Regions from separate parts of the Homo sapiens genome. Here regions 2, 3 and 4 are each linked to region 1. Evidence: fine-mapped expression QTL. A gene starts in region 1. Each other region holds a variant in brackets. All regions are shown on one strand. Distances are between the middles of the regions. Region 1 holds the start of AMZ1 (archaelysin family metallopeptidase 1). Region 2 overlaps GNA12 (G protein subunit alpha 12). Region 3 overlaps AMZ1 (archaelysin family metallopeptidase 1). Region 4 overlaps AMZ1 (archaelysin family metallopeptidase 1).

Region 1 (4,109 bases):
TGAGACACCAGGAGAAACCAAAATATCCCAAAGCAGGTGACAGATCCATGACACGGAGTCCAGCGCAGACCATCAGGGTGTGGAGACGGACTTTTGGCTATTGATGAGTGTGAAGTCACGGGCCGCCTGCAGAACGCAGTATGTGACGTGAATCCCTTAAAATATGTATTTAGGCTGGGCACGGTGGCTCATACCTGTGATCTCAACATTTTGGGAGGCCGAGCTGGGAGGGTTGTTTGAGCCCAGGAGTTTGAGACCAGCTTGAGCAACATAGCGAGATCCCATCTCTACATAAAAGTTTCAAAATTAGCCAGGTGTGATGGCACGTACCTGTAGTCTCAGCTACTCAGGAGGCTGAGGGAGGAGGATTGCTGGAGTCTAGGAGGTCGAGGCTACAGTGACTCGCGTTTATACCAGTGCATTCTAGCTTGGGCAATAGAGCAAGATCCTGTCTCAAAAAAAACTTTTTAAAAATACATTTCAATGTGGAGGAGAAGGCGATCAGAAGGATGTCTGACAAGAAGGTGAGAGAGGTTACCTCTACACAGTTGGCTTATGGGGTCTTCTTTTTGTTTTTATTTTTCATAATTTTCCAAATTTTGCACACCGGACACCTAGTGTTGTGTTGTTTTTCTCTCTCTCTCTTTTTTTTTTGAAACAAAGTCTTGCTTTGTCACCCAGGCTGGAGTGCAGTGGCATAATCTCGGCTCACTGCAACCTCCGCCTCCCGGGTTCAAGTGATTCTCCTGCTTCAGCCTCCCGAGTAGCTGGGACTATAGGCACCAGCCACCACGCCCAGCTAATTTTTTTATTTTTAATAGAGACGGGGTTTGACCATACTGGCCAGGCCGGTCTTGAACTCCTGACCTTGTGATCTGTCTGCCTCAGCCTCCCAAAGTGCTGGGATTACAGGCATGAGCCACCACGCCCAGCCGTGTTATTTCTTAAGGCTTAAAAAAATTCTTTGAGGCTGGGTGTGGTGGCTCACGCCTGTACTCCCAGCACTTTGAGAGGCTGAGGCGGGTGTATCATGAGGTCAAGAGTTTGATACCAGCCTGGCCAAGAAGGTGAAACCCCATCTCTATTAAAAATACAAAAATTAGCTGGACACAATGATGGGTACCTATAATCCCCACTACTCAGGCGGCTGAGGCAGAAGAATGACTTGAACCCCGGAGGTGGAGGTTGCAGTGAGCCCAGATTGCACCATTACACTCCAGCCTGGGCGACAGAGCGAGACTCCATCTAAAAAAAAAAAAAAATTCTTTGCACTGGTGTGGGACGATGGTGACGAATCCCTCAGCCATCTGTGGGGCGCTGCTGAGGGCGTGGGGGGCATTTCTGCACGGTGAAGCAGAGCTGGTGGGAGGCTGCCCGAGGGAAGCTGGTGCTGGGAGGGTTTGCAGAGAGGAAAAGGGCAGTTTATGGAAAAGGCCTCTGGGCTCTGTCTGGAGCCGTCATGCCGGCCTTCACGGCATCCTTCCGCACTTAGAGTCCTTTCCATCTCCTGGTGGCTGGCACAGGGCCAGGGCTGCACTCACAGCTGGCCAGGGTAGGGCAGGGCGCCCGTCCTCAGGGCCACTGACTGTAGGGCTAACCTAGGGGCCTGGTTCACCCCTCTCACCTGGGGCTTCGCTGATAAGCCTGGTTCACCTCCTCACCTGGTGGCCTCGTTCACCCCCTCACCTGGCGCCTTGCCTGATAGCCTGGTTCACCCCTCTCACCTGGGGCCTCTCCTGGTGGCCTGGTTCCCCTTCCTCACCTCGTGGCGCTGGTTCACCCCTCTCACCTGGGGCCTTAACTGGTGGCCTGGTTCACCTCTTCACCTGGCGCCTTGCAGAGTAGCCGGGTTTACTCCTCTCACCTGGGGAGGCACGAACTGGCCCGGGCTGACTGACCTCCCTCACCTGTTTGGCTTTAGGCTCTGGGGCCCCCCTGCCCGGGTGTTTCTGGGAGGCTGGAGGGTCCCACGTGAGCTCCACCGCGGGCAGCTGGAGGGAGTGGGGCAGGACGCTGAGCGCCGGGAGGGGTGTGGCCCTCCTGTCCTGCCCGCGGCCCCACACCGGCCCCAGTCCCGCCCGCCTCGGTCCCTGCCCCGCGCGCCGACGTCACCGGGACCTCCCGATCCTCCCGGCCCAGGCCGAGCTGCCCACGCTGCTGCCCGGGGCTCGGTGCCCGGCGCGGCCTCTGCCGGCTCCGGCGGGCGCGGGACTGCGAGGTAGGGGGGCGCGCGGGGAAGACTCGGGGGCGCAGGGACCGAGAGGGACCTCCGTGCCGGGGCGGGTGGGTAGGGGCAGCTCCGGGTCCAGCCCGGCCCGCGCACCAAGTCCCGAGGGCGCCCGGGCGGCGGCGGCTACGGGCGCGCGGGGACCGCGGAGACGCGAAGGGCGCACTTGGCGAGGGTTTGGTGCAGCGCCGCGCCGGGGTCCGCACAGCCCCGGCAGGTCCTGCAGAGGGAAGGCCGGGCCAGGGAAGGGCCACGCGCCCCCTCCCCGCCATCCTCTCCCAGGCCAGGGCGACCTGCGCGCTTCCCGATGGGAGCAAACTGGGGACGGGTCGGGAATCCAGGGCCAAGCGCCCGAAAGAAGGCGTTTCCGGGCTGGGGCGAGCCAGGTGGGTGCGGGACGTCCCCGGGGAACCTCCAGGGCGCCGAGAATCTCGTCGTGCCCAGGGCTCCCCGCAGCCTGTGTATGAGCCGGGGAGGGAGAAGGCTTCCTCCCCCAGGAGACTGAGGGAGAAGGCTGTGGATATGATCCCTGCAGGGATGTAAGACAGGTCTCAAAACCAGAAAAGCAAGGGAGGGGTGACAGAGAAATGGCAAACTTTACAAAGGACAGGGGAGGGCAGGGACCTGGGTCCTTTCTGCCCCCATCACGGGAGGGAAACACTTGGCAGAGGAGTTTGGGGTTCGCAGGTGAGGAGAGAGAACAGGAAGCCAAGAGTCTGGCCCGGAGGCCACTACCCCTGCGGTCTAAGCCCCCGGTTTTCCCTCCTAGCGAATGGAAACTGAGAGGTGAGAAACCCCCAAAACCATCCGTCCGTCTGGTTCTGCCTGAAGGTCTCCGCTGTCAGCTAATGAATAGCTCGATGCAGCTGCTGGGAGGTTTTGCAAAGCGCATTCAGAATAGCGAGAATCAGAGCATGGTTTCTTGCCCAAAGGCCAGGCATCTGCGTGGTCAGATGGGGGAGCATGAGTGCCCGGAGCTGTGCGGTTTAGGGCAGCCTGACCTTGGATACCTGGTTACTGGGCCAGTCTGGCGGCCCTTGTTGCTTAGAGCGGCAGAACCTCCCTGGGGGGGGGATGCGGACGTGCTCTTTTCCAGTCTTTGGACAAAAAAAGGCAAGGGGAGGAGGAAGGAGAAGCGTCTGAGTTTACCCATGGTATTAATAGCAGCAGGGCTGGAACTCGGGTGCTCTGGGAGAGGAGACGTCCTACCCCCTGTCCCCGTCAGAACATCCCTGCTCCAGGAGCAGCTGGGGTTCCAGTGTGAAGCGTGGCTTTGAAACCAGGCCCCGCTGGCCCCCAGCTGTGTCGCCAGGGCCAAGTCACTTAACGTCTGAGCCTCAGTTTCCCCACCTGAAACACCGCAGTGGCACCTGCGGCTCCGTGTGTGGCTTGGAGGACGCAGGCATGAGACCTGTTGGCTGCTGTCATGACTGCAGTTAGCAGAGGAGGGGGACACACTGTGACAGGGTCCAAAGGACAGCGAGAAACCTCCATCTGGGGGTCTCCTTTTTGGAGCATGGATGGGTTGGTGAGTGCCAGAGGGTGCTGCGAAGCTGACCCCCACTAAGGCGGCTCCCTCCCCGTGGGTACCCCCAGGGCTCACATGCAGCTCTGGCTCTATGTGAGGAGTGGTCTTGTGCAGAAATGACCTGGCAGGATGGAAGGACTCAGCTGGCAGCTGACAGTGGGGACCGGGGTTTTCCTGAATGACCCACGAAGACGAATGTGGCCACAAGGCTTCTTGAGAGGAAATAGTATGTGGGCAGACGTCATGCCCTGGATGCCCGAGAGCTGTACCCGTGTTAAGGGATGGAGGGAGCTAAGCGTTCTCATTCCTAGCTTGGAGCCTGTCACACCATTCTCCAGTCTGCACTAGGAGGTG
Region 2 (4,170 bases), 41 kb after region 1:
CTGTGAGTGGTCTCTTCGCTTTCTGGCTGGAACGATAACCCCAGGGGTTGTGAGGACAGAACCTCCACCTGCCATCCCCATGGGCACCGCTGGTCTCCAGAGCACGTCAAGGTCCTTCCCCTCCCAGCTTCTGATCTTGGAGAGCGAGGCCTCTCATGCTCACATGCATGTGTTTAGGTGTATATGCTGCCATGCCATGCTTTAAAAATAAAAAGTGTTTTGAATAAAAGCCTCTGGAACACAACTTTATTTATTTACTTTTTTGGAGACAGAGTCCCACTCTGTCACCAGGCTGGAGTGCAGTGGCATGATCTCGGCTCACTGCAACCTCTGCCTACCGGGTTCAAGCGATTCTCCTGCCTCTGCTTTCCGAGTAGCTAGGATTACAGGCGCCCACCACCACACCCAGCTAATTTTTGTATTTTTAGTAGAGTTGGGGTTTCACCATGTTGGCCAGGATGGTCTCGATCTCTTGACCTTGTGATCCGCTCGCCTCGGACTCTCAAAGTGCTGGGATTACAGGCATGAGCCACTGCGCCCGGCCATCTTCATTTATTTTTAAGATGGGGTCTTTGCTCTTGCCCAGGGTGGAGTGCAGAGTGCGATCGCAGCTCGCTGTAGCCTCAAGCTCCTGGGCTCAAACGATCCTTCTGCCTCAGCCTCCCAAGTAGCTGGCACTACAAGCATGCACCACCATGCCCAGCTGATTCTATCCGTAAAGATGGGGTCTCTTGTGGCCTGGGTTGGTCTCAAACTCCTGCACTCAAGCAATTCTCCCACCTTGGCCTCCCAAAGTGCTGGGATTATAGGTGTGAGCCACACCTGTATTATTTACAATGGTTCTCCTACATGCCAGGCTTTGTTTGGTATGTGGAAATAAAAACTGTGATGAATAAATAATAAACCACCTTCAAATAACATTAGGATTAGAGCTGGGTGTGGTGGCTCATGCCTGTAATCCCAGCACTGTGGGAGGCTGTGGGAGGCTGAGGTGGGCCGATCACGAGGTCAGGAGATAGAGACCACCCTGGCCAACATGGTGAAACCCTGTCTCTACTAAAAATACAAAAAATTAGCTGGGTGTGGTGGCGGGCGCCTGTAGACCCAGCTACTTGAGAGGCTGAGGCTGAAGAATCGTTTGAACCCACGAGGTGGAGGGAGACTCTGTCTCAAAAAAAAAAAAAAAAAAAAAATTAGGATGAGAGTGATCTGCTGTGAATCCTGGGGAATGAAAAATCAATTTAGTGTTGGTTTTGAATACTGGCACTATTTTATATTAAGCAAAGAAAGACTAAATTTATTTTAATAAACATTCAGAGGCTGAGGGTGGCCAAATTTTCAAGCCAGACCCTCCCAATGTTAATACACTGTGCAAAGCTTACACCATGAACAACTGACCCGGACCACTACCATTCCAATGGGAGCCTCTGCCTTACAATACCAGGTTAGATGTCTGTGCCCAGAACCCCTAAATTAGTTACAACTAATAATCTTCTTTCAAGAGTTTTTTTTTTCAATCTTGGAGTTAACAATCTGACTTATTTTTCTTTTATCAAAGAAGTAGGAAAATTACAATAAGAATTCTAGAGATCTCTATAAATTACAGACCTATGACTCAAAATCCTTGAAACAATTTCTCTACGAACATAAGAGTTAAAAATAGATTTCAGTAAAACCCTATATGCGTCTTATGTGTACACAGTATAGCTATGAGGAACAGATCTTATTTTGAGGAACTTTATTGTTACATTTTTGCAATAATTGAGGCACAACTACCTCCTGCTTTTCCAACATCTTAATAAAAAAGACAATAAGGATTAACAGTGAAATTAAAATTAAAAAATACAAAAGCCTAAGGTTCTGGAGACAAAACTGACTAGAGTCTATGTGTAGCCAAGTTGTGAATGACAGTTTAGCCTTGCAGAGTTTCCTTCTTCTCCAATTACAATGTGTTACAGAATTTGGAAGGGGGTGTCTTTAAAAACGTTCTAATTCACCCCGGTCATGAGGAGGAGGAGGAGGAAGTCCAGCTCAGCAAGGCCAAGTGCCTCGGCCAGGGCGGTGGGGTCAGCGCTGAGCGGGTCAAGAGCCCGCGCCGGGGGCCATCCCCCTGCGCTTTCTATCGAGTTAAACGGACCCCACAATATCTCCTTCCTCTCATGCTTCTGGTTTGAAAGTGACGAGTAAATATGTCAGACTGTTTAAAGGAAAACAAGCACTCATTGACAAGGCCGGACTACTCAGGAAGGTGTTTCAAACAACTCCCCTGCTACGCGAATCACAGCGCTGCTGTCGCCAACAGCGCCGCGAAGAGGCTCTCCCCGTTGGCGGAGGACCCGCTTGCACTTCCTCTGGGCTCTGGATTCTAACACACACAGGAGACACAGCGAAAGCTGACCCAGAAGGCAAACAAAGCTCACCACGCTCCGGACCGGGCTGCGCGTCACTGTTGCAGACTGCAAATG[G/T]GACCTGAGACCACCCCGAGGGCCCCACCAGGAGCTCTCTTTCTCCTTTAAAACGTGGTCATCGGCACTCATCTCCGGTCACATCCGTGAGGTCTGTGAAGAGCCACAGAAGCAGTACAAAAACAGCGACTTCTTTATCCAGCCAAAAAAGGAGCCACAAGCCCAGCAAACACTGACACACAGCCTCGAGCACTGCGAGAGAGAGTTCCATGCTGTCTCCCGATGAGAACGCTGTGCTAACAGGGTGACCCAGAGGCAGGTTTCCCCTCCCTCTTCTGCTTCTGCATCTGCCCCAAGGGCTTGCGTTTACCGGGTTTGCGGAAAACAAGCCAAGGGTGAGCTGCAGAGGGGCTCGGGGCTCGGGGCAGCACGGCCTCGGGACGAGGGCCCTGGGATATGTGACTGAGCCACAGCAACATTCGGGTGCCAATTAAGAGGACGCTTTTCATTTTCTTGTAAATGCTAGGACACATCCCAAAACACACTAGGCAGGATTTCTCAGTAGAGTGATACACAGAGGGGACCAGCTTGGAATGCAATGTATTTTAAACACAGTGAAAGCCACCTGGCAGGTAGCTGGACAAGTGAGCTGGGCCCAGGACTGGCCAGCTCGTATCAACATTCACAGGCTCCCGCGGGCTCCCCCAGGACAGCGGCATCCGAGAGTGTTTACTCTTCTGCAAGCACAGTCATAGAAGCGAGGGGCCTCGATGAGAATCAGACTTAGGGAGAGCGGCGAACAGGCACGGCTGTCCAAAGGCACTGGTGGAGCGGCAGTTTGGAGAAACTCAAGATTCCTCCAGCGTCTGTGGGCTTCCCGAAAGGTCAGCTGTTAGCTCGCCAAGCAGCTGGGGCATTAACAAAAGCTCTGCTAGTGGCCTTGCCAGCTTTCTGAAGCCCCAGAAGAGGAATGTTTCTGAAAGAAGGAAACGCTATGTGCTGCCAACTGTGTGTGAGCAGATGACTTGCAGGAAGATGGGAGAGCCGTCTGCAAGGGGACCTGGTTTCTGTGTCTTTGCCGTTGGGTTGGGCAGTGGGTGGCTAAGGGGAGAAGAGCACCGCTGTGTGTGCACGGACGGAGCGGCAGTCACCGTGGGCATCCTGTCTCACTCCGTGTTGTGCTGCTGGGCATGGGGCAGGGTGGGAAGGGCTGAGCCTGCTGTAGGGGCGTAAGGTGAATCCACACCTGCAGAGCTCTGCAGCCCGTCCTCAGAGCTGGGAAGGGATCCTAGGCACGGCTCCTCAGCTTCATCTGAGAGGCTTGGACTAGGGGCTCTTAGGAAATCGGCACGGGAGTTTGAAAAGGCAACGTGCTCCCTTTGGGAGGTGGCCTTCAGACACTGCGGCTGGGGCTGCAGGGCCGGGCTCAGGCACTGAGTTTAGCAGCATCGGCGTGCACTGGATCTCTACAAGCTACTGTTAGGCAAAGCTTTCAGGTTAGTCTGTCTCAGGGAAGACTTGTGAGTTAGAAAAGCCGTCTGCAAGGCCAGCTGGTTTTTGTGTTTCTGTCATTAAAGACAGAGCGTGTGTACACACATACACACACAACACGGTCCTCAATTAAACTGCGTCAGAAAAAGAGGAACGTTTCTGTAAAAGCAAAGCAAGCTGTGTGATTAGGTGTTCCGTATTCACAACATCATCACTCGGATTTTCAGTAGTTTCACTCGCCCCCAGGATTCAGTAGCTAACGTGACAGTTTCCA
Region 3 (4,170 bases), 22 kb after region 1:
CTCTACCTCCTGGGTTCAAGCAATTCTCCCGTCTCAGACTCCTGAGTAGTTGGGATTACAGGCACGCACCACCAGGCCCGGCTCATTTTGTATTTTTAGTAGAGATGGGGTTTTGTCATGTTGGCCAGGCTGGTCTCGAACTCCTGACCTCAGGTGATCTGCCCATCTTGGCCTCCCGAGTTGCTGGCATCACAGGTGTGAGCCACTGTGCCCGGCCTTACCGAGGGTTCTTGTGATGGCATCAGGCTCAGCTGGCTGCTGCAGAAAAACGCCTCCATCCCAAGATCTTTAATCATCTGCAGCCCCTTTGGCTGTGGGGACTCACAGGTCCCAGGGCTGAGACGTGGACTCTCTGGGGCTGTCGCTCAGCTGCTGAGGTGGCTTCTCCTTCCTGGGGCTGCAAGCGCCAGTCTTGTTGGCCCGGCTGCCTCTCCAGCGTCCCCACTGGGCTGTCCATGGCCTTTGACTTACCATGTCCTGATCTCCAAATGGCCCTGGCTGTCACTCCACATCATGCAGTACTGTGTGCCCTCAGGTCACACCAAACGCTGGTGGCCCACACCTGACTTGGGAAGGGGCAGGGCCCAGGCAGAGGAAGAGGATGACGGGGTGCCAGCCTGAGCCTGGAAGATGGGGGTCCCCGGCTGCCTCCTGACCCCATCCTCTGGCCCTCTCCCCGCAGACGGCATCCTGTCCTTCTTGAAGAACAACAAGCCAGGGGACGCGCTGTGTGTGCTGGGCCTCACACTGTCTGACCTGTACCCCCATGAGGCCTGGAGCTTCACCTTCAGCAAGTTCCTTCCAGGGCACGGTGAGCCGGGGCCCCAGCAGCTGTGCGTGGGGGGTAGCCTGGCATGGGGCTGTGGCCTCCGTGGCTGCAGGGCACCCTCTTTGCTTTTGCTTCAAGCACCCTCCTGGTGGAAGTCAACACCTGTGCATGGGAATAGATGGCCCCTTCCAGCTCCTCCTGAGGAATGGCATAGGGGCTGTTCCTCAGCTGTGGCGTCTGCCCCAGGGCCCAACTTCATGTGGGCAGGACAGGGCCTCCCAGGACTGGTATGTCTTTGGGCCATGGCCAGCTTGCATGAGAGCATGAGGTGGGTTTGACGGTGGGCCCCCCAGAGCCAAGGCTGACCCCTGAGAGTGCCCTTCTCTCCATCTCTCTCCAGAAGTGGGCGTCTGCAGCTTCGCCCGGTTCTCAGGGGAATTCCCGAAGTCGGGGCCCAGCGCCCCTGATCTGGCCCTGGTAGAGGCAGCAGCAGACGGCCCCGAGGCCCCCCTGCAGGACAGGGGCTGGGCCCTGTGCTTCAGTGCCCTGGGGATGGTTCAGTGCTGCAAGGTGGGTGGGGGCTCTGGGGCTGGTAAGAGGGGACAGGAGGGTGCTGTCTGAGCCCTTGGTGCCTCGGTCTGTTACACTGCCCCATCCTCACAGTGAAGTGGATGGACCCCTAACTCTATGGAATGAGGAAAGCAAGGCTACACAGCTATGAAGCAGCAGGGGAGGGATTAGAGCCCCAAGCCCCTATCCTGTGTGGCCTCCCACCCTGACTCACCTTTCCCCTGGGGCCCTGAAAGTGGCCTGTGCCGCCTGGGGCAGGGGGAGGGCGCCTGGACCACCTCCCGGCCATCTGGCCTCACCCAGGTCCTCATTTTGGTCCTGCTGGGGCTGCCTGGGGATCTGCCGGATGCAGGGGCAAGGCAGTGAGGCAAGGTGCTTGGTGGCCTTCCCCCCAGGTCACGTGCCACGAGCTCTGCCACCTTCTGGGCCTGGGGAACTGCCGCTGGCTCCGCTGCCTCATGCAGGGTGCGCTCAGCCTGGACGAGGCCCTGCGGCGGCCCCTGGACCTCTGTCCCATCTGCCTGAGGAAGCTGCAGCATGTCCTGGGTTTCAGGCTCATCGAGAGGTACCAGGTGAGTGGCTGAGTTGCGCTGCCCGGCTGCTGGGACCTGCGCTCCGGAGGCCCGCGAGCGCCGCCTGGAGGCTACGCAGGGCATGGGGACCGCACACAGGCTTTGTCAACTGCCGGGTTCCAGGCAGTGCAGAGCCCTGGGACCTGCGCTGGGGTTGAGCTCCATCCGGATCTCACTGGCAGTAGATCGAGTCCTGCCAGGGCCCGCGTGTGGTGGCTGTGACTGGGAGGTTGCAGCGGGGTCGAGTGGGGACGAGGGCTTTTCTCCCTCTGTCAGGAAGAGCTGGCATTGGAGCCCAGCCGGCGGGTGGCACGGTCTTCCCAGGGTAACTTTCTCTTTGCTTTCCCGTCACCCACACTTGGGTCACTGCTGCTCAGAGGAGGCACAGGCCCCTTGCGAGGAGGTGGGAGCTGACACAACAAGGCTTGTTGGAGGTGGCCTCCATTCCTAACTCCCTCTGTCGCCTGGGTGGGGTTGCCGAGCAAAGGGCTCGTCCGTATTCATGGACATTTGTTTGCAAGCTCAAAAGCTTTACTCTGAGTTCTGAGTGCAAAGGCAGGTGGTGGTAATTTTTCTTCAAACCCAGCTTTGGACTACAACCAGTTATAAGGTGCTCACTGCGTACAGGCACCAGAGCAGTCAATGAAACCGCGCTGGAAAGCCCCTGCATCCTCCTCCCGCCCGTTGAGGCAAGTGGGGGT[G/A]TGGTTCCCGGACCGAGCCTGTCAGAATCCCCTGCAGGGCCTAGCTGGGCCCTCCTTCCTTCTGGGGTAGAGTGAGGAGCTGTATCTTGCAGGGTCCTGGGTGACACTGAACTAGAGGCCGTGGCATTTCTAGCTCACAGTGCTGGAATCTCTCTGCAGGGATCCTCTCTGAAGACTCTGGCAGTCAAGGGAAGGTGAAGGGGGCACAGAGGAAACAGCTTTTCCAAGTGTAAGGAGAAGAGCCTGTGACTTGGGGGGAACCCAGGCGCAGCCATGGCTGAGGGTAGGAGCATCTCCCGAGGGTACAGGTGGCGTGATGGCTGGTCAGCACCTGGTGATGCCTTGTAAAGGTTGCTGCTGCCAGCTGTGCCCCGTCAAGGGGCAGCTCTTAGTACCTTCCTGAGGCTGTGTAACAGGCACAGGGGCAGCTTGGTCTGCAGAAAGGGTTGAGAGCTCTCATTTGATGCCTTCACCTGGGGTCTTGTGCAACCATCTGACATGAACTTTTAGAAAGTGTATGCCCCTCCCTACACGTGCTGACCTGGCATAGCCTGGATCCACCTGGATCTGAGCTGGAGGGTGTAGCTCCTCCTCCTGCCCAGAGCTCTCTCCGTTCCGTGAGCACCATCTCCTGAGGCTGTGGAGGGAAGAGGGCCAGGGCAAAGGCACTCCAGGGTGGCCTGGCCCTCCTGGCTGTTGTAGGGAGGGCAGTGGTGTGGATGTGAGGTCACCTGCTGTCCCAGGGCTTGGGGAGGTGCTGGAGAGCTGACCAAGGGCCTGGCCAGAAAAGGTCACTGCTGTCCACTGACAGCAATCAGTGAAATGCCTCTTGAAGAAAGCCTGACTTGTTGTGGTCTCTGCCACTTCCTGTGGTGTAAACAGTCTCACGATGGCTGATGTGAGCTCCCAATGTGATGTCAGTGAGTGCTGAGTTGGGAACAGATGTGCAGTGGGACCTTGTTAAACTGTGTGTCCCCTGTACAGATGCAGGAGAGGAGACTAACCTTGAGAGCAGAGGTGAGAGTGAAATGGAGAAAACATTTAGGAAGTGAGTTTCAAGTACTGCCTTTGCTTTACATTTTTTTCCCCCTGGTGGTCTCACTATGTTGCCCAGGCTGGTCTTGAACTCCTGGTTTCAAGTGATCCTCCTGCCTCTGCCTCCCTGTGCTGGGATTACAAGCGTGAGCCACCATGCCCACACCTTTGCTTTAAAATTTTAAATTTTATTTAATTATACGCTTTCTGGGTGGGTGCCGTGGCTCACACCTGTAATCCCAGCACTTTGGGAGGCGGAGGTGGGTGGGTCATCTGAGGTCAGGAGTTTGAGACCAGCCTGGCTAACATGGTGAAACCCCGTCTCCACTAAAAAATGTAAAAATTAGCCAGGCATGCTGGCAGGAACCTGTAAAATCCCTGCTACTCAGGAGGCCAACGCAGGAGAATTGCTTGAACCTGGGAGGGGGAGGTTGCAGTGAGCTGAGATCGCAGCACTGCACTCCAGCCTGGCCAACAGAGTGAGCCTCTGTCTTAAAAAAATCGAAAAATGTTAAGTGTTCTA
Region 4 (4,170 bases), 33 kb after region 1:
CGACTTAGCCCTAATTACATGAGCTTTGATCACCGCTCGATTGTATGGCACAGTTATTTTTAAAAATCCAGTCCAAGTGGAAATACACCTGGAACATTTTATACTGCAATGACTGATGGACGACTTTGATATACAAAATAAATTGTTACTCAGCTTTTCTATAATGCTTACATCTTACATTTTCATTCTCAAAATTAATAAATGCTATCAACCCCAATTTTTTTTTTTTTTGAGATGGAGTTTCGCTCTTGTTGCCCAGCCTGGAGTGCAATGGTGTGATCTTGGCTCACTGCAACCTCTGCCTTCCAGTTTCAAGCGATTCTCCTGCCTCAGCCTCCCACGTAGATGGGATTACAGGTGCCTGCCACACCATGCCCGGCTAATTTTTGTATTTTTAGTAGAAATGGGGTTTCATCACCTTGGCCAGGCTGGTCTCAAACTCCTGACCTCGTGATCCACCCGCCTTGGCCTCCCAAAGTGCCAGGATTACAGGCGTCAGCCACCGTGCCCAGCCTCAACTCCAAATTTTAAAAAGGGCTTAAACGAAGAGGATGAAATTCTGGAAGGCTAAATGAAAAGAGAATGTGTCTGTTGAATTCGATAAGCAATTCCTTGCATTTGAGAAGGCAAGGAGCCGACGGGAACCTACCGACAGGGCTGCCACGCACTGCTGCAGAGCTTTCCGTGCAAAGCGCGGCTCCCCTCTGAGACTCGGCTCCTCTGCTGACATGGACCGGTTCATCTACCCACGCGGACGCCCATCCACAAACACTTAGTCACTGCTGGAGGCTTTTAAAACACCTGTCAAATGAAGAGTCACTTCACAAATGTTCACTCCCCGTTTCCATGTCTCCCCACGTCAGGGTGAACACTTTTTATGCGCTGTGACAAAAAGAGAAAGACTAGTGTGTGTTTTGGGGGCTGGAGGGGATCATTATTTTTTTGAATTTTTATTTATTGAGACAGAGTCTGTGTTGCCCAGGCTGGAGTCCAGTGGTGCGATCTTGGCTCACTGCAACCTCCGCCTTCTGGGTTCAAACGATTCTCCTGTCTCAGCCTCCCAAGTAGCTGGGACTACAGGCGCCTGCCACCAAGCCTGGCTAATTTTTGTATTTTTTAGTAGAGACGGGGTTTTACCGTGCTGGCCAGGCTGGTCTTGAACTCCTGACCTCAAGTGAAACACCGAAGTCTCCCAAAATGCTGGGATTATAGGTGTGAGCCACTGCGCCCAGCCTTTAAAAAAAAAAAATTATTTTAGATACAGGGGTCTTGCTATGTTGCCCAGGCTTATCTCAAATGCCTGGGCTCAAGCGACTCTCCTGCCTCAGCCTCCTAAGTAGCTGGACTACAGGTGTGTATCTCTACACTGAGCTAACTAAAAACTTGTTTTTGGTAGAGACAGGGTTTCAGCCACGTTGCCCAGGCTGGTTTTGAACTCCTGGGCTCAGGCAATCCTACTGCCTCGGGCTCACGAAGTGCCTGGATTACAGGTGTGAGTCACCACGCCCAGCCCGTTATTTCTGTTTATACGAATGTCACAGCATGTTTCCTGTGTGACCCTGCGGGCTGTCATCGCTGGCTGCCTGCCTTACGCCCACAGGTCTGGTGGTGGCGACCAGCAGCTGCAAAACGACCGACTCTATTGAAGA[C/A]ACACTGGGTGGCGCGGGAGGTTCCTGCCAATGCCGGGAGGAAGAGCAACCCAGGACGCCTGTGCCTGGGAGGGATGGAAAGGCCAGGGGAGGGTGGAGCTCAGGAGTGGAAGCACAGGGACTAAGGCCTGAGCCGGGCCCTGTGCTGAGCGCTCACCTCACTCTCCTGCCGCGCACCGCAGATGTGTGGAAGATGTGAGGAGGCCTCTGCTTCGGGAAAGGTGCTTGCCCCACGGTGGAACGCACTCTGGAAGCCCGTGGATGCGACGCATGCTGCAGAATCCACTGCCACACACATTCTTCTGTTTGAAAGCAGTAGGTGGGCTGGGCGCAGTGGGTCACTGTAATCCCAGCACTTTGGGAGGCTGAGGTGGGTGGATCACGAGGTCAGGAGATCGAGACCATCCTCGCTAACACGGTGAAGCCCTGTCTCTACTAAAAATACAAAAAATTAGCCAGGTGTGGTGTCAGATGCCTGTAGTCCCAGCTATTTGGGAGGCTGAGGCAGGAGAATGGTGTGAACCTGGGAGGTGGAGGTTGCAGTGAGCCGAGATCGCGACACTGCACTCCAACCTGGGCAACAGAGCGAGACTACGTCTCAAAAAAAAAAAAAAAGATAGCGGCGGGTGGGTGCCACACTCAGGGGCCCCCCACTTCTCAGCAGTGGCGGGGGAGGCAGGGACATAACACGCCAGGAAAACAGGTGTAATTTAAGGCACATTTTAATAGATTTATAAAAATCATATATACAAAACATGTTAAACTAACCACCGTGGCTATAACATATATTTTTACACTTTATCATATCTTAACCTCGTACACTGTATTCGTAAACCAAGTCCGGTCACGGCATGATGGCCCGGCGCAGGTGGTGCTGGCGCTGTAGCGACCGTCTTGGAGGGGCTGCACAGAGCACTCGGTTCCTTTCTGTATTTAAGGTCCTGAAAGGCACAGGCGCTAAAGCCAGAAGGCCGTCCAACTGGTCCCTTCGGCAGTGTGTCCTCCTGCTGCGTGGGCTGGGGCCTGAGCACAGGAAAGGGAGTTCAGGACACGGTGGCCATGAGTAGGTGCCAAGCTTACCACACTGAATTTCCTGGCGACGCTTGTGCCCATCGATGTGAGCTGGTTCAAATGGAGTTAAGAAAAAGGGCATTTCGAATTTTTTTTTTTTTTTTGAGACAGACTCTCGCTCTCTCGCCTGGGCTGGAGTGCAGTGGCGCGATCTCGGCTCACTGCAAGCTCTGCCTCCCGGGTTCATGCCATTCTCCTGCCTCAGCCTCCCAAGTAGCCGGGACTACAGGCGCCCGCCACCATGCCCGGCTAATTTTTTATATTTCAGCAGAGACGGGGTTTCACCGTGTTAGCCAGGATGGTGTCGATCTCCTGACCTCGTGATCCATCCGCCTCAGCCTCCCCAAGTGCTGGGATTACAGGCGTGAGCCACCGTGCCCAGCCAGGACATTTTGAATGTTTTAAACCAATTTGCCTGACAGGTCAAAAGGTAATTTTTTGAGATTCGAGACTGACAGATGCAACAGAGATTTTAAATTTTGCATAGGCTTGTTAAGAACCCAGACTGGGTGCAGCGACTCATGCCTGTAATCCCAGCACTTCAGGAAGGCTGAGGTGGGAGGATCACTTGAGGCCAAGAGTTCAACACCAGCCTGGGCAACACAGTGAGACTCCATCTCTATACAAAATTTAAAAATTAGCCAGGTGCGGGTGGTGGCCACATGCCTGTGGTCCCAGCTACTTGGAAGGCCAAGGTGGGAGGACTGCTTGAGCCCAGGAGTTTTGAGGCTGCGATGAGCTATGATCACACCACTGCACTCCAGCCTGGGCCACAGAGCAAGACCCTATATTTAAAATAAAATAAAGTAAAATAAAATAAAACAAAATAAAAATCAAGAAGGTTCACTGTGTAAAAAAAAAGTAAATCTGAAATGCATTTGCATGGCAGTTGTACAACCTGTGAGTGGTGTAGAAATTATATGTGACTTGAGTACATTTTATAAAAGAAGAAAAAAAAATTGAACAGGTTGACTCCTAATAAGAAAGCACCACAGAGTGTACAGCCCACGGTGCCTGTGGGCTGTGTGGGGGCCCTGCTGCAGACGCGTGCTCAGCACCTGTCACCCACAGCTAAGTCACAAGAGCTGCTGGCACCTGTTTGCAGGGGAATGTGGCAACATGCACCCGGGTGCATCCAGACAGCCTGGGTGAGCGGGAGAGCCACAAAGAACCAACTTCATTCGTGTGATTTCCAGATGCAGGTCTGGTTCAGTTCTTGATGCCCGAGTTTCAAAGTCTCCTACCTGACCAAGTGTCCTCGGCCTAGTTTGTACTGACCTTCTTTGAGGAGCACAGATGGGAAACACATTGGTGGCGAAGATCTCCTGCATCACCCCGAGGCTGCGGGAGATCCCTTGGGAGCCAGCTGTCGGACTGAGGAGGAGGAGGGGTGCCACAGTCTCGAGGGGTTCACGCTGCTGGCCACAGCCCTGCATGCCCCCTCGGCGCT

What was found.
Region 2: its variant is fine-mapped to the expression of AMZ1 in whole blood (TOPMed, PIP above 0.99).
Region 3: its variant is fine-mapped to the expression of AMZ1 in whole blood (TOPMed, PIP above 0.99).
Region 4: its variant is fine-mapped to the expression of AMZ1 in prefrontal cortex (BrainSeq, PIP 0.95).

What each region holds. Positions count from the first base shown.
Region 1 is chr7:2,686,079-2,690,187 of GRCh38, forward strand. It overlaps AMZ1 (archaelysin family metallopeptidase 1), which reads left to right and starts at 2,124. Exons shown (of 7, transcript NM_001384743.1): 1 at 2,124-2,218. RefSeq lists an enhancer at 2,823-3,092.
Region 2 is chr7:2,726,836-2,731,005 of GRCh38, forward strand. GNA12 (G protein subunit alpha 12) reads right to left here. Exons shown (of 4, transcript NM_007353.3): 4 at 1,270-4,170. It also overlaps a transcript of AMZ1 not described here. Among named protein-coding and RNA genes, the nearest start is that of AMZ1, 41 kb to the left of the region's middle. The variant G/T (reference allele first, on the strand shown) is at 2,466.
Region 3 is chr7:2,707,906-2,712,075 of GRCh38, forward strand. AMZ1 (archaelysin family metallopeptidase 1) reads left to right here. Exons shown (of 7, transcript NM_001384743.1): 4 at 683-811; 5 at 1,170-1,339; 6 at 1,735-1,911. Among named protein-coding and RNA genes, the nearest start is that of AMZ1, 22 kb to the left of the region's middle. RefSeq lists enhancers at 1,639-1,738, 1,658-2,353, 2,499-2,718, 2,729-2,778, 3,419-3,578 and a silencer at 1,899-2,058. The variant G/A (reference allele first, on the strand shown) is at 2,613.
Region 4 is chr7:2,719,467-2,723,636 of GRCh38, forward strand. AMZ1 (archaelysin family metallopeptidase 1) reads left to right here. Exons shown (of 7, transcript NM_001384743.1): 7 at 1-217. Among named protein-coding and RNA genes, the nearest start is that of AMZ1, 33 kb to the left of the region's middle. The variant C/A (reference allele first, on the strand shown) is at 1,650.